Homo sapiens: one gene and its partners. The protein of the gene in region 4 interacts with the protein of the main gene of each other region in a biochemical or structural test. Each region holds a gene or a part of one and is shown on either strand. Other genes may lie near its edges.

Region 1 (2,939 bases), on a different chromosome or scaffold from region 4:
CATATCTGATTCAGCAGGTCTGGGGCGAGATCTGAGAATGTGCATTTCTAAAAAGATCCCAGGCGATCGTGATGCTCTTGGTCCTGGGGTCACACTTCTAGTGAAACAGTTTATTCCCACCTCTGATCCAGTAAAACATGCCCAGTTATCTAAGGAGGAGGGACTACATTGGCCAAGAGAAAGCAGCCTGTAGACTCAAGTGCACAATTGGGCTCCTCTCTAAAGAATGCTGATCCTCCAGATTCATGAATGGAAATTTTCTTTTCTAATGAACAGAACAAGATGTGCTTAAGGGTGTCTTGAGAGTATCACAGTCATCTTTATTAGATTCACTTGTGCCACAGTTTAGATCAAGGCACAAAGACAAGTGGAGGACTAGAATCTTCTGAGGAGGTGGAGGTACTACATCACTGGTGGTCCTGAGGCCCCTAAAAAAACTGGGAGGTGGGCCCTGGGTGTAGATGAGCCCACTTAGGCCTAAGATATCTACATGGCCGAGAGACAGAATATAAAGCCCCACTTTCCCCTAGCCCCTCCTACCTTTTCATAAGCCTTGGCTTTCTTACCTCACTGGTGAATGTGCCTGATCAAGAATAGTGTCTCTATTCTTGCCTCAAGGAAAGAACTATTATTTTGTCAGCTGGGTATGGCTGAGACATCATAGTATGCTGAGAAATCTTCCAAATGCATGTGCTATAGATGTGAATTAAATTTTAGCCTTCTAGTTAATATATCACTAAATTCTGTGTTCCTTAATTTTTTTATTACTCTCATAACATGAACAAATTTTAATACTCCTTAAGTGTCAAAAGTTGTTCTTAAATGGCCAGAGTGAGCTACAGCTGCAACATGATGGCCAGTTTGAGAACTTCCAGTTGGCTCTGCAGTTAGACTCCCAACAGCTGAGATCCCATGGTTGAAATCTGGTTTTATCTTTTGCTCTAGTGCCCTTTCCCCATTTACATACAGAAACACTTGGTTGTTAAAAAATTATGTCTAGTGATACGCATATGTCAAAAATCACATACCCCATAAATATATAAAATTATTAATTAAATATTAAAAGGGTGTGGTTCGGTGACTTGAGATTCTCATTTTCGTTTTTCTCCCTGGCAACAGTTAATTGGCATGCTGCTGGCCTGCTGTCTGTCCCGGTTCATCACGGCCAATCAGTATGAGATGGTGTAAGGAGAAGGTAGGTGACAGTGGGGAGTGTTTAATTTTGAGGGGTCCCCTTTGGGACACTTACTACCCTTCAAATGTGCAGGAGTACTCCCTGGCCATTGAGCTACCTGATCTTGGTGGCACTTGTCCATGTTCAGAAATCTCATTTCTGTGGTTCTGGGAAGGAAGTATAATTGGTTCTTTTGTGGAAAATGTGGAAATGCTTTTTTCAGCTTGTTATCTTTCAAGTCCTTATTACTGGTGAATCACTCACATGTTCTCATTTCTCTCTTAGTCTTTCAAGAATGACGGAATAAGAGACCTGTTTTAAAAAGGAACTGCAGCAATCTTTGAAAGACTTCCAAAGAATGTTAGAGCACAGTACATAATACACTTGCCCTGCTCCCTCTCCCCCTTACCCCACAACGTGCAACTGACACTCCCACCCAGTCTCTGCTCCACCTTTCAGCCCACGTCACGTGTAGTGTCCATTTTGTGAAGCCCTGTTGTGCCACAGAGTGTAGCCAGGTCCCCCTGCAGCTAGTCCTAGTGAACCTCACCCCGAGGCCCTGCATGGGCCAGCCCCTCCATCTGTACTTGGTCCAACTGCAACTCATCATCGGTGACTGGTTATCACACCATCGCTGGCCCCTTTGGGCCCTGCATGTAGTGTGGGAGGCTCCTGTTAGCTCCTCACTGTGGTAAATGCCACACACCTTTAAGTAGATAAGCAGACGATAGTTATCTGTTCTTTTGACTTAATCTCATTTGGTTTGATTTTCCCTCTACTAAGGCTTTCCTACCTTCTTCAGGCTGCCTAAGACATGTAACGAAACACTTCAATAATTGTCCATGAGGAGAAAAAAAGCATGTGTCATGCATGAAGGAAACTGAACTTGAGGTGGCCTCCTTGCTTGTTACATACCTGGGTATGTGTAGGCAGTTTAGTGCATCTTTGCCTCTCGGTTGAAACCTGTATAACCCTGTTACAAAGCTGTGTTGTTGCTTCTTGTGAAGGCCATGATATTTTGTTTTTCCCCAATTAATTGCTATTGTGTTATTTTACTACTTCTCTCTGTATTTTTTCTTGCATTGACATTATAGACATTGAGGACCTCATCCAAACAATTTAAAAATGAGTGTGAAGGGGGAACAAGTCAAAATATTTTTAAAAGATCTTCAAAAGTAATGCCTCTGTCTAGCATGCCAACAAGAATGCATTGATATTGTGAACATTTGTGATATATGTATTAATAAATAGAGCAATTACAAGCAGCTGTGTTCTGGTTCTGTTCTTTGGTTCTTATGAAAGTTTTAAAACACATTTCTTTTCCATCTTGCTCTTCAGGACATCGCAGGCAGGTGGACCATCTCACACACTGACACACCTCTCCATGTGTGCTCCCACCCCACTAAAATAGCATCAGCAGCAGAGAAGCTAAAGGGTTAGGTTTTTTTAATTATTGTTATGGACACTTCAGAAACTTTAACCATTTATCATGAACAGAATACATTGTTGTCTGTGGAAATAGAGCCTTCATATCATTTCAGGCCTCTGAAATCCTTGGGCCTGAAATCCGTGAAATAAATACAAAGATTTCAGCTGAGTTTTTAAAGTCTGGATTTCATTTTGTTAAAAAGGAAATGAGCCTCTATTCTTTCCTTCATCGCTTCTAATGAGCATGAATTCTCCTCTTTCCTCTTTCTTTTCTGTGTTGGATTGAAAAAACACGATCTAGAGAAGAGATTACATCCTACGATTCAGCCATCCCAAT
Region 2 (3,455 bases), on a different chromosome or scaffold from region 4:
GGGCATGTCCAGAACCCGGCAATGTGCCTACCTGTCATGTGCAGGGATGGCAGCCTCTCCCGAGACCCACGGTTCCTGCAGGGGCAGGCAGCTGGCCTGCGAGGGGGTCTAACCTGCAGGGAAGCTGTGCCCTGCCCACCGCTGCCCCCCCTCCTACTGCAGGTGTGCTTCCCTTTGGGCCATCTTCTACCTTCCTGAGCATGACAGAATGGCCTCAGCTTGGCCCTGCCCTCTGGGGGACACAGCAACAATAAAAGGGCCTGGGTTTCCTGGAGACAGATTCCAGCCCAGTGTTGCTCGCAAGCCGAGCCCCGAGGTCATCGGCAACTAGCAATTTGGCCAAGGAACCCTAGGCTACAAGAGGATGACCGCCTTCACCACCGTGGAAAGAAAAAGGAAAAACTTGCTTTTGATTTCATGCTGGGCACAGAGGAGTTTCGCTTAACATACGTGTGGCTGGAGACTATGAGTTCAGAATTCCTGTTTTGAACATGCGGAGAAGGGGCTGGGGGCCGTCAGGAGGGAGGGCAGCCCCAGGCAGCTCCCCAGGGAAGGCCAATCCCCACAGCCTCACCAGAGTCTCCTGGTCCCAGACTCACTGGGAGTGACCCAGGGTGGGAGGTGCCCAGCACTCAGCCATGCTTCCTGCAGGGAGGGTGGGGATAGGGTGCTAGGAGCCCACAGGGTAGGAGCCAGCCTGGGAGCCCTGGAGGCGGTAATCTCACCTTCCACAGCCACATCTAGGCGCTGCACTGCTCCAGCTGTGCCTGGCACAACCTCCGGGCTCATTTTAAGAGGAGCAGGTGTTCAGGTATTCTCAACACACAGACCCCACATAGACACCAACCCAGGTGTGAAAATGTCGGGAATGTTGGAAACAGCGTAAGGCCTGCAGTGCCTTCTCATAAGCCACACAGGCGTTTGCACTTGCACATTTGTAGAAAATTCTCCATGGGACCATATTCTCTCTCCCCATACAGCTCCTTTTTCTGGAAGCTACAGGTAACAGAGCTGAATTCATGCTCTTACTCTCAAATCTCCTAGCCTTCCAGACATCTCCCTCTTTTTTTTTTGGGACAGAGTCTCACTCTGTCAACCCAGGCTGGGGTGCAGTGGTGTGATCTCAACTCACTGCAACCTCCACCTCCCACATTCAAGCAATTCTTAAGCCTCATCCTCCCAAGTTGCTGGGATCACAGGCGTGCACCACCTCACCTGGCTAATTTTTGTATTTTTGTAGAGACAGGGTTTCGCCATGTTGGTGAGGCTGATTTCCAACTCCCGACCTCAAGTGACCCACCTATCTCGGCCTCCCAAAGTGCCGGGATTACAGGCGTGAGCCGCAGCGCCCGGCCTCCAGACATCCCCTGTCAGAGATGTGCCTCAGGGCTCTCCAGGGACCAGGGGTCAAAGGCTCTGTCCCCAGCCAGACAGCCTTACTCTTGGGATGACTCTACCTTCCCAGAGCCTGGTCTTAGATCAGGAGCCGGGGATTAACGGGTCCTGGAAAGCCAGGGATCAAAATCCCTGCCGTCCATCTGGAGACACTGGGAGGAGGCGATGCTCCAGCAGAGGCAGGACCTGCTTACCTTGCACTCGCAGCCCATCTGGTACCTGTGGTTCAGGCTCTTCTTCTGGGTGGTGCTCAGGGTGTCCCAGGGCACGATGAAGTCACAGAGGGTGATGTGCATCTTGCCGTCCCCCTCGGCCTTTCCTGCGGAGAGACGGGGATCACCGAGCTCAGGGAGAGGGAAAAGTCCTCCTCCTGCCCAGCTCCTCCACCCGGCGCAGGGGCGCTGGGATTTCGTTGCAACAATCCTGTGCACTGTCTATTCTGAGTTAAAACACAGTGGGTGGCCAGGCACGGTGGCTCACTCCTGTAATCCCAGCACTTTGGGAGGCTGAGGCGGGTGGATCTCTTGAGGCCAGGAGTTCAAGACCAGCCTGGCCAACGTGATGAAACCCCCTCTCTACTAAAATACAAAAAATTAGCCGGGTGTGGTGTCACACGCCTGTAATCCCAGCTACTTGGGAGGCTGAGGCAGGAGAATCGCTCTTGCACCCCAGAGGCGGAAGTTGCAGTGAGCCGAGATCGCGCCACTGAACTCCAGCCTGGGTGACACAGCAAGACTCCGTCTCAAAAAAATAAAAAGTGGAAAAAAAAAGAAAGCCATAATGCATGTTCACTGACAGAAACTTAAACATTGGAAACAAAGAAAAAACTTCCTGGCCAGGGGCGGTGGCTCATGCCTGTAATCCCAGCACTTTGGGAGGCCGCGGCAGGTGGATCACAAGGTCAGGAGATCGAGACCATCCTGGCTAACACGGTGAAACCCCCGTCTCTACTAAAAATACAAAAAATTAGCCAGGCGTGCTGGCGGGCACCTGTAGTCCCAGCTACTCAGGAGGCTGAGGTAGGAGAATGGCGTGAACCCGGGAGGCGGAGGTTGCAGTGAGCCGAGTTGGTGCCACTGCACTCCAGCCTGGGCCTGGGCGACAGAGCGAGACTCAGTCTAAAAAAAAAAAAGAAAAGAAAAAAATTCCCTACTTTCATTACCCACAGCTAATATTTTGATGTATTTCCTTCCAATATTCCACTATTGATTTTGAGACAGTCTTGCTCTGTCGCTCAGGCCAGAGTGCAATGGTATGATCATAGCTCACTGCAGCCTTGACCTCCCAAGCTCAAGCGATCCTCCCGTCTCAGTCTCCTGAATAGCTGGGACTATAGGTGTGAACCACTACACCCTGCTAATTTTTTATATTTTTTTTTGTAGAAACAGGGTCTTGCTATGTTACTCAGGCTGGTCTTAAACTTCTGCGCTCAAGCAATACCCCCACTTTGGCCTCCCAAAGTGTTAGGATTATAGGCATGAGCCACCACGCCTGGCCCCAATATTCTTTTAAATTAAATTTTATTCTAAAAAAAGGATAGAGACGATGTTTCACCATGTTGCCCAGGCTGGTCTTGAACTGAGCTTAAGTGATCCTCCCACCTTGACTTCCCAAAGTGCTGGGATTACAGGTGTGAGCCACTGCGCCCGGCCAATATTCTCTTCTATGTGCATCTTCACACATAAAACGTCATGCAGTATGTAGATTATATTGTTTCCTGTTTTGTTTTTCACAAAATATTAATTCACAGGTGCTTCTCCCATTTGAGTTTAAACTTATAATTCTGCATTTTTCCATTATGAAGAGCCAAAGCATGGAATTTTTGAAAATTAGGAATCTGCTCTGAATTCCCTTCATCAGGCATGATGAGCTGTGGCTTCTTTCTGTACTTCCGGCTCCTGACTCAGCTGCCTCCTTCCTTTGCTGAAGATACTACATTGGCAATAGCCTTGGCGTTTTACAAGCAGGAGGAAAAGAACAAAGCAGTGTGTTCCAGTGGCTGACAGAACCTAATGACAGCTATGGAAGTCATTTAAAAACTCATCCCTCAGGCCAGGTGC
Region 3 (3,500 bases), on a different chromosome or scaffold from region 4:
TGGCGGTTGGGGGGACAACGAGATTTCATTCGTAGGATTATAATATATAGGAAAGTATTTTGGGGAAAAAAAGGTTAAGAGTTATATAATACAGAAGAAAACATCATTAATATTATTTATATATTATAAATGTTAACACTAATATGTATTATAAATGTTATAAATATAATACATAAATAATTATGTATTATAAATGATCAGGAATAGTGAGACACTAAGTGAAAAACAGAATCTTAACTAATGCAAAATTATTTTACCTTCATGTTGCAGGCTAATTCCATTAGTTTTTTTGCATTTTCTTCTGAGCGGTATCTCTTAGGAAGCTGAACCCTAAAGAACTTCAAGGCACCTTCAAAGTCTGTCAACAGCAGGTCATCTTTCGAAGTCTTGAAGAAAATACAAACACATATAGAAAAAATGTGTTGCTATAAGGATGCACAAGAAGTTTTTTATATTCTCAGCACTTTTCAGCACTTTTACAATCCCCAGAAGATACTTCTTAGCTTTTGTCAGAGCCACCTGCATACATCCACTGTTAGGGGTAATGCTAGATTTCCAGCACTTTTATAATCCCCAGAAGATATTTCTTCGCTTTTGTCAGAGCCACCTGCATACATCCACTGTCATGGGTAATGCTAGTGCACAGTGACTGCTCAGAATGAGACTACAACCAATGTATTGCAAGTGCAGAGCAGGGAATGACAGATAACTCAGCTAATAAATAAATGAGTACCTTTAATAATCCAAGGGCGACATTAAAAATAACACTTATTCCCTGAAAGAGAACAGACAAAAAGAACACTGTCAGTTTTTATATCTCGACTATTATGCTATTTGTCCTTATACCCCACATTTTTAAAGAAATTGTGAAAACTTAAGGAAGGAAATGCATTATCTCAGAACTACCTTGAAAAATAAAAACTAAAGGGCCATTGAAAAGCTGCTTAAAGACCTAGCTTCCCCTTTTTCTGAGAGAAGAGCTTTTCTTGCCCTGTTCTCATATTCAATAATAAGAAATGCTTTTCCAAAGCATTCCATGCTTCCAAACCAAAAGATCAGTCATAAAGTTGTGATCTCTCAGGAAATAACTCCTGGGGAACTTTTCCTTTATCTTGTGCTGTCCCAATCCATGCACAGCAACCACTCTGTCGATAAGCCCTATATTCCAGAACTGAATCTGCTCAAGGCTCCCTCCATTCTGCAAATCCTGGGGCTAAGAACAAAGGAGAGGAAGCACTAACATCTGTTGATCAAGTTAAACTGCTTAAGCTGCTGGGCCTCAGTTTCCATAACTAATACTCTCCTATGGGTTTTCTGAGATAATTAGCTGAAAAGTTTATGTAAATTACTTAGCATGCCACCTGGCCTTTAGTAGCTACTTAACAGATGGTTGTTTATACTACTAAAAAGCTAGAAACAATTTAAAGGTTTGTGATTAGAAATTGGTTACATAAAGTATAGCACATCCAAATAATGGGATACTTGGCAGCAACTAAGAAAAACGGCATATTTGGTAATATTTATTTCTTCTGTTTCTTAGAATATTTCAAGCTGAGTGGTAGATACAAATTCTTTATGAATTTTTGTATGTTTTGAATATAGCATAATTAAAAAGGATAGTACAGATGTGTATGTTCAAGTATATGAAATTTAAAAAGAGGATACCAAAGAGTATAAATAACAATCATATTTTTAAATATACACATAGGAGAACCATAATATATATAGTGTTCCATCCATATGGAAACCATACTATTCTGTATAGTAATTATACATACACATATATGAACACATAAAAAAGGCTGAAAGGATACTGCTTTTAACCAAACTGTTAAAGGAGGTAACCTATAGACAGTGGGATTTGTAGTATTTTAAATTATTTTTACTTATATTTTCTATAAACATATATTATTTTTATAATTATGTTTTTCTTAAACACACCACACAAAATCCAAAATTACGTCATGGCAAAGACTGTTATTTACTCTAATATCTTATTTTCTCTTTAGTAATAAATCTCTAATTTTTAGCAAATTCCTGCTCAGCTTATTTTTTAAAAAGTCTCCCTTGCAGCTAGGTGTGGTCATGTAACTAAGTTCTGACCATAAAGTGGAAATACTGGATGGAACTTCCAGGAAGTCTCTTTTGAAAACAGAGGAGGCACCCTCTCCCATCCTCTAATCCTCCTGGCTTGAATATGATATAATGGCTGGTGTGCTACTCCTCCATACGGCTAACAGCCAGAGTGAGGGGAAGGCACGCTACTGCCAACATTGACTTTTTTTCACAAGAGAGCAAAAAGCTATTTTTTAAAATCACTGTTACTTTGGGTTTCTTCATTCAATACAGCCAAAACTAATATGAACTAATACAAATGTCTAATTCAGTACGTCTTTTCAGAGTACACCTTTAACAAATACGATCATTAGCTTTAGTCCAAGGAAGTCACTTAAACCTAGATTTCCTAGCAATAAAATAAAATAATTAAAGAGACCAATTCTGTTTTGACAGAGCTGACACTCAAAACAGAATCTGTTCTCCTCAAGTACACTGCAAACAAAAGCCAAAGTGCTGTGGCCTCTGATACATACCTCACATAAAAGCAGGTCGATGATATGGAAGACCATGTAGAGAGGGAATTTTGCAGTGAAAAGAGTAAGAAACCACTGGGAGGCATACATGTGTGCTTCAAGGCTTATATCCAGGAAGTGGTTGTACAGGTCAGGAATGTATTCCTGAAATAGCAAACCAATTAGTTCTGGGCACATATGCATCTGTCCAATTCCCACTAAGGAGGCTCATAAATCTACCAGGAATAGGCCAAAAAAGTAAAATACTTGTGTTTTTCTAAAAATCTCCAAAGTGCTTAGAACACTTATCATCTGGTATTAAGCTGGCACTCAACTCTTTTTTCCAGACCACAAACTTGTTCTAAAGAAAGAGGAATCCCCAAAATGGTGACAAGTATTTGGAAAGCCTGTTTTTCTCTCCAAAGTAAAAAACATTTGGGAAAGTTTGTTTCACTTTTGTTATGAGATTCCTAACCAGTCAGCTTCAGAGCCTTGGGGAGTACTTCTTGACTGAGTTAGCTGTGGAAAAGACCCCTAACAAAGTCATCTGATCTTTTGGGAGTTTATCAGCTCACATCCATGAGGTGTGAAAGTTTAACACTTTGTTAATCTTTGCATCATAATCACATAGTGATAAAGGATAAAAATGAAACCCATCCTTAGCCACGGATCGCTAAGGCAATTACCAATGCTCCCTGGCACCATTTCCTCAATTTGGTGCTCCTTAGTCCTGTACTCTTTTTGTCAAACACAAGCTGGTTTCTCTTTTTACCTGCATGAGGCGCTCCAACTGGTAAAATTTGCAATGCAAATCTTCGAAGTTTTGCTTGAAAAGTTCCCTGAGCCCATAGTCAAACATGATCTTGACCAGAACACTGAATGCCTGTTCTTCAGGCATCTGTAACAGATAGGCAAGTTGTTGGGTAGGGA
Region 4 (3,500 bases):
TTTGGATTTCGTGATCAATTTTCACTATCCAACCCTAAAATTTACTCATAACAAATTTGTTATTTAAGGATAATACTGGTGGGGCACAGTGGCTCACGCCTGTAATCCCAGCACTTTGGGAGACCGAGGTGGGCAGAGCACTGGAGGTCAGGAGTTCAAGGCCAGCCCAGCCAATGTGGTGAAACCCCATCTCTACTAAAAACAAAAAAATTAGCCTAGCATGGTGGCAGGCACCTGTAATCCCAGGTACTCGGGAGGCTGAGGCAGGAGAATTGCTGGAATCTGGAAGTCAGAGGTTGCAGTGAGCTGATATCACACCACTGCACTCCAGGCTGGGCGACAGAGAGAGACTGTCTCAAAATAAATAAATAAATAAACAGAAAAAGAACAAAAGATAATAGGATAATATCATTCTAGGCACAGGACTGTTATGAGGATTAGAGCTGACAGGCTGATTTCATATACTGGAGTGCATTTGCCAAATACAACCACCCCATACAAAACAGAGTACTGACTCCCTGTGACAGTTGAGAGAAGTGAAGTGACTCAATGCTGTTCTACTTACTAAGTGGAAGAGGTGGGATTTGACCTGAGGTCTAACTGATTGCAAAGCACATTCTCTTTTCACTACAACATGGCTGCTGTTTCTATATCACATTACTTATTTTACGGTCTTTCTAAACGCGAAGTTAACATACAAAAAGAAAAGCCACAATAGCGATATTTAAAGCCAGACTTAAAAAAAGAACAGCAATAGTGATAAAGGACACACAGTGCAGTAAAAAAGATAGAAGTTCACATGCAAAGGCAGAAAGTGAAACAAAATACGAACGGCAATTTAGAGACCAGCTTTACGTCCGTAGTTTGGATTCTTGAAATTATTAATAGGACTCTTGTAAATCGGATTTTCTTGCTAAAGTAAAAGAAATAGTTTCTAATGATTTCATCAGAAAAAAAAAATCCCTTTATAGTGTTTGAACACTATAAATGTCTTTTTTTTTATTTCTACCCTTCTGAAATTTGTAATTTAAAAAATTGATAATTTTTAAAAACCCAAGCAAATTGTAGTAAAGTGCAACTAACTACAAAATTCATTTACAATTTAAAAATACTGAAGATTGGCATTGCTTTCTTGTATCAAAAGATGAATACACAAAGGCCAACATTTGGTTACCCCACCCTCTGACTCCATATTTCAAAGCACTCAATGCTAACATAACCTTTCGGTCACTTAGGGCTTTTAAGATTTTTATAAGCCAAAGTTTACTGAGATATAATTTTCATAGAGGAACATACATCTTTTTAAAGTACATAGTTCTGTGAGTTTTCAAATACATAAATCCACCCACAATCAAGATCATCCCAAGGAAGATCCCTTACGCCCCTCTGTGGTCAACACTTTCCCCCATTCCAGCCCCTAGCAACCACTGATTTTTGCCCCTACAGTTTTGCTTTTCCAGAATGTCCTCTAAATGGAATCATATAGTATATAGCAGGGGTGTCCAATCTTTTGGCTTCCCTGGGCCACACTGGAAGAAGAAGAATTGTCTTGGGCCACACATAAAATACACTAACGATAGCTGATGAGCTTTAAAAAAAAGTTACCAAAAAAAAATAATAATAATAATTACAATTTCTAAGAAAGTTTACAAATTTGTGTTGGGGCCACATTCAAAGCTATTCTGGGCTGCATGTCCTGGCCGACGAGCTGCGAGTTGGACAAGCTTGGTATATAACCTTTTGAATCTGGCTTTCACTGAAGGTTTTTTTTGTTTGTTTGTTTTAAAGAAAGAAGCAGCTTTCCATTGAATAGCTTGCTACACAGATAACATTATTTAGGATTCTACTTCACATTAGATGAAAAGGCAGATTTAGGATCAAAACTATTAAAGAAATAAAAATACTGGCCACAGTAACCAGAATATACATGCTTATAATCAATGTTTTGTTTCAATGGGATATATTTAGGATGCTTTCTGTTTTTCACTAAATGCAAATTCCTTGAGTAAGAAACTTTTGGGGGAATAAAATACTTAGAAAGGACTTTAATAATCAGCCTGACAGCTAATACATAAGTCTTAGGAGTATTACATTTACTTTATAAGCCACTTTGCTTTTTGGATGTTTTGTAACTTACCGTGTCCCATTTGGCATTCATTTTCTCCTTTTCAAATTTAGCAAACTCCCTTCTGTCATGAATTATCATTAAAAGCTTCCATATCAGCAGTAATGCAAGGCCAATAAGAACAATTCCAGCAACCACACCAGCTACAATTGGAATGATGTCTGGACCAGTGGGACACTCTGGAAAATAAGAAGGTAATAATGAGCACCACAAAGAGCTGTGCAGTGTCTTATAAAAAACATACAGGAATAAACACCCAAGAGAGTGAACGCACACTATCCCAAAGAATCTATAAAATAGCTCTTAGAACTAACAAGTGAGTTTACAAGGTTGCAGGATACATGATCAATGAACAAAAATCATGTATTTTTCTATATATATAATTTATTTCTACATATTGAAAATATAAGTTTTTAAACAGTAATATTTACTACAGAATGAAAAAGCATGAAAAACTTACATATAAGTCTAACAAAATATATGCAAGATTTGCATGTTAAGAATTACTAAATACTGATAAAAAGAAATCTTTCAGACTGAATAAATGGAGAGATATTCCATGTGCAGGAGTTACAAAACCTAATACCGTTAAGACGTCAATTCTTCCCAATTTGATCTATAAACTCAATGGTATCCCACTCAAACTCCTGGCAGAACTTCTGTAGCAATCAGTAAGCCACTTCTAAAATTTACATGGAAGGCAGGGAACTAAGGAAGTGTCTCAAAAACACTTTTGTAAAAGAATAAAGTTGGAAGACCCTGCTTTCAGGCCTAGCTATAAAGAAAGCTACAAGACCATGTGGTATAGCTAACACTCAGATACATGGAACAGAATACAGAGTCAGAAACAGGCCTACACATGTAAGGTCACCTGATGTTCAACAAAGGTGGAGAAAAGACAGTCTTTTTTCAACAAATGCCCCTAGAACAAGTGGACACTGACATGAAAAAAACTGAGCCTTTTGTCACACACTAACTCAAAATGAGTTACAGATCTAAATGTGAAACCCCAGAAACTATAAAACTTCTACCAAAAAACAGAGGAGAAAAATCCTTATAATCTTGGGTTAGGCAGAGTTCTTAAAGACAATGTAAAAGCAAGAGCCACAGAAGAAAAACTTGGTAAACTGTACTTAATCAAAATTAAAACCTGTGGTGTTCAGAAGACACTTAAAAAAATGAAATGATAAGGAGACACAGGCTGGGAGACAATATTTGCAAAACACCTAGCTGATAATTCAAAACAGTATGGGAGTCTAAGAGTCTGGCAGCTTCTTAACAAAGTTAAACATATGCTTACCATATGCTCCAAAATGCCATTTTTAGTATTTACCCAAGAGAAATGAAAGCTTATGTTCACACAAAAACATGTACA

Evidence for each region.
Region 1: the proteins of ITGB1 (region 4) and TSPAN7 form a complex in vitro, tested with the Homo sapiens proteins (one study listed by BioGRID).
Region 2: the proteins of ITGB1 (region 4) and TIMP2 form a complex in vitro, tested with the Homo sapiens proteins (one study listed by BioGRID).
Region 3: the proteins of ITGB1 (region 4) and RABGAP1 form a complex in vitro, tested with the Homo sapiens proteins (one study listed by IntAct).

The regions. Positions count from the first base shown.
Region 1 is NC_000023.11:38,686,480-38,689,418, forward strand, and holds the end of TSPAN7 (tetraspanin-7), read left to right. Parts: intron 1-1,119; coding exon 1,120-1,188; 3' UTR 1,189-1,195; intron 1,196-1,459; 3' UTR 1,460-2,439; downstream 2,440-2,939. UniProt on the Homo sapiens protein: May be involved in cell proliferation and cell motility.
Region 2 is NC_000017.11:78,855,933-78,859,387, forward strand, and holds part of TIMP2 (metalloproteinase inhibitor 2 precursor), read right to left. Parts: intron 1,715-3,455; coding exon 1,590-1,714; intron 1-1,589. UniProt on the Homo sapiens protein: Complexes with metalloproteinases (such as collagenases) and irreversibly inactivates them by binding to their catalytic zinc cofactor. Known to act on MMP-1, MMP-2, MMP-3, MMP-7, MMP-8, MMP-9, MMP-10, MMP-13, MMP-14, MMP-15, MMP-16 and MMP-19.
Region 3 is NC_000009.12:123,073,520-123,077,019, reverse strand, and holds part of RABGAP1 (rab GTPase-activating protein 1), read right to left. Parts: intron 3,469-3,500; coding exon 3,343-3,468; intron 2,736-3,342; coding exon 2,592-2,735; intron 776-2,591; coding exon 734-775; intron 387-733; coding exon 258-386; coding exon of another isoform or gene 249-257; intron 1-248. UniProt on the Homo sapiens protein: May act as a GTPase-activating protein of RAB6A. May play a role in microtubule nucleation by centrosome. May participate in a RAB6A-mediated pathway involved in the metaphase-anaphase transition.
Region 4 is NC_000010.11:32,906,231-32,909,730, forward strand, and holds part of ITGB1 (integrin beta-1 isoform 1A precursor), read right to left. Parts: intron 2,305-3,500; coding exon 2,138-2,304; intron 914-2,137; coding exon of another isoform or gene 839-913; exon of another isoform or gene 833-838; intron 1-832.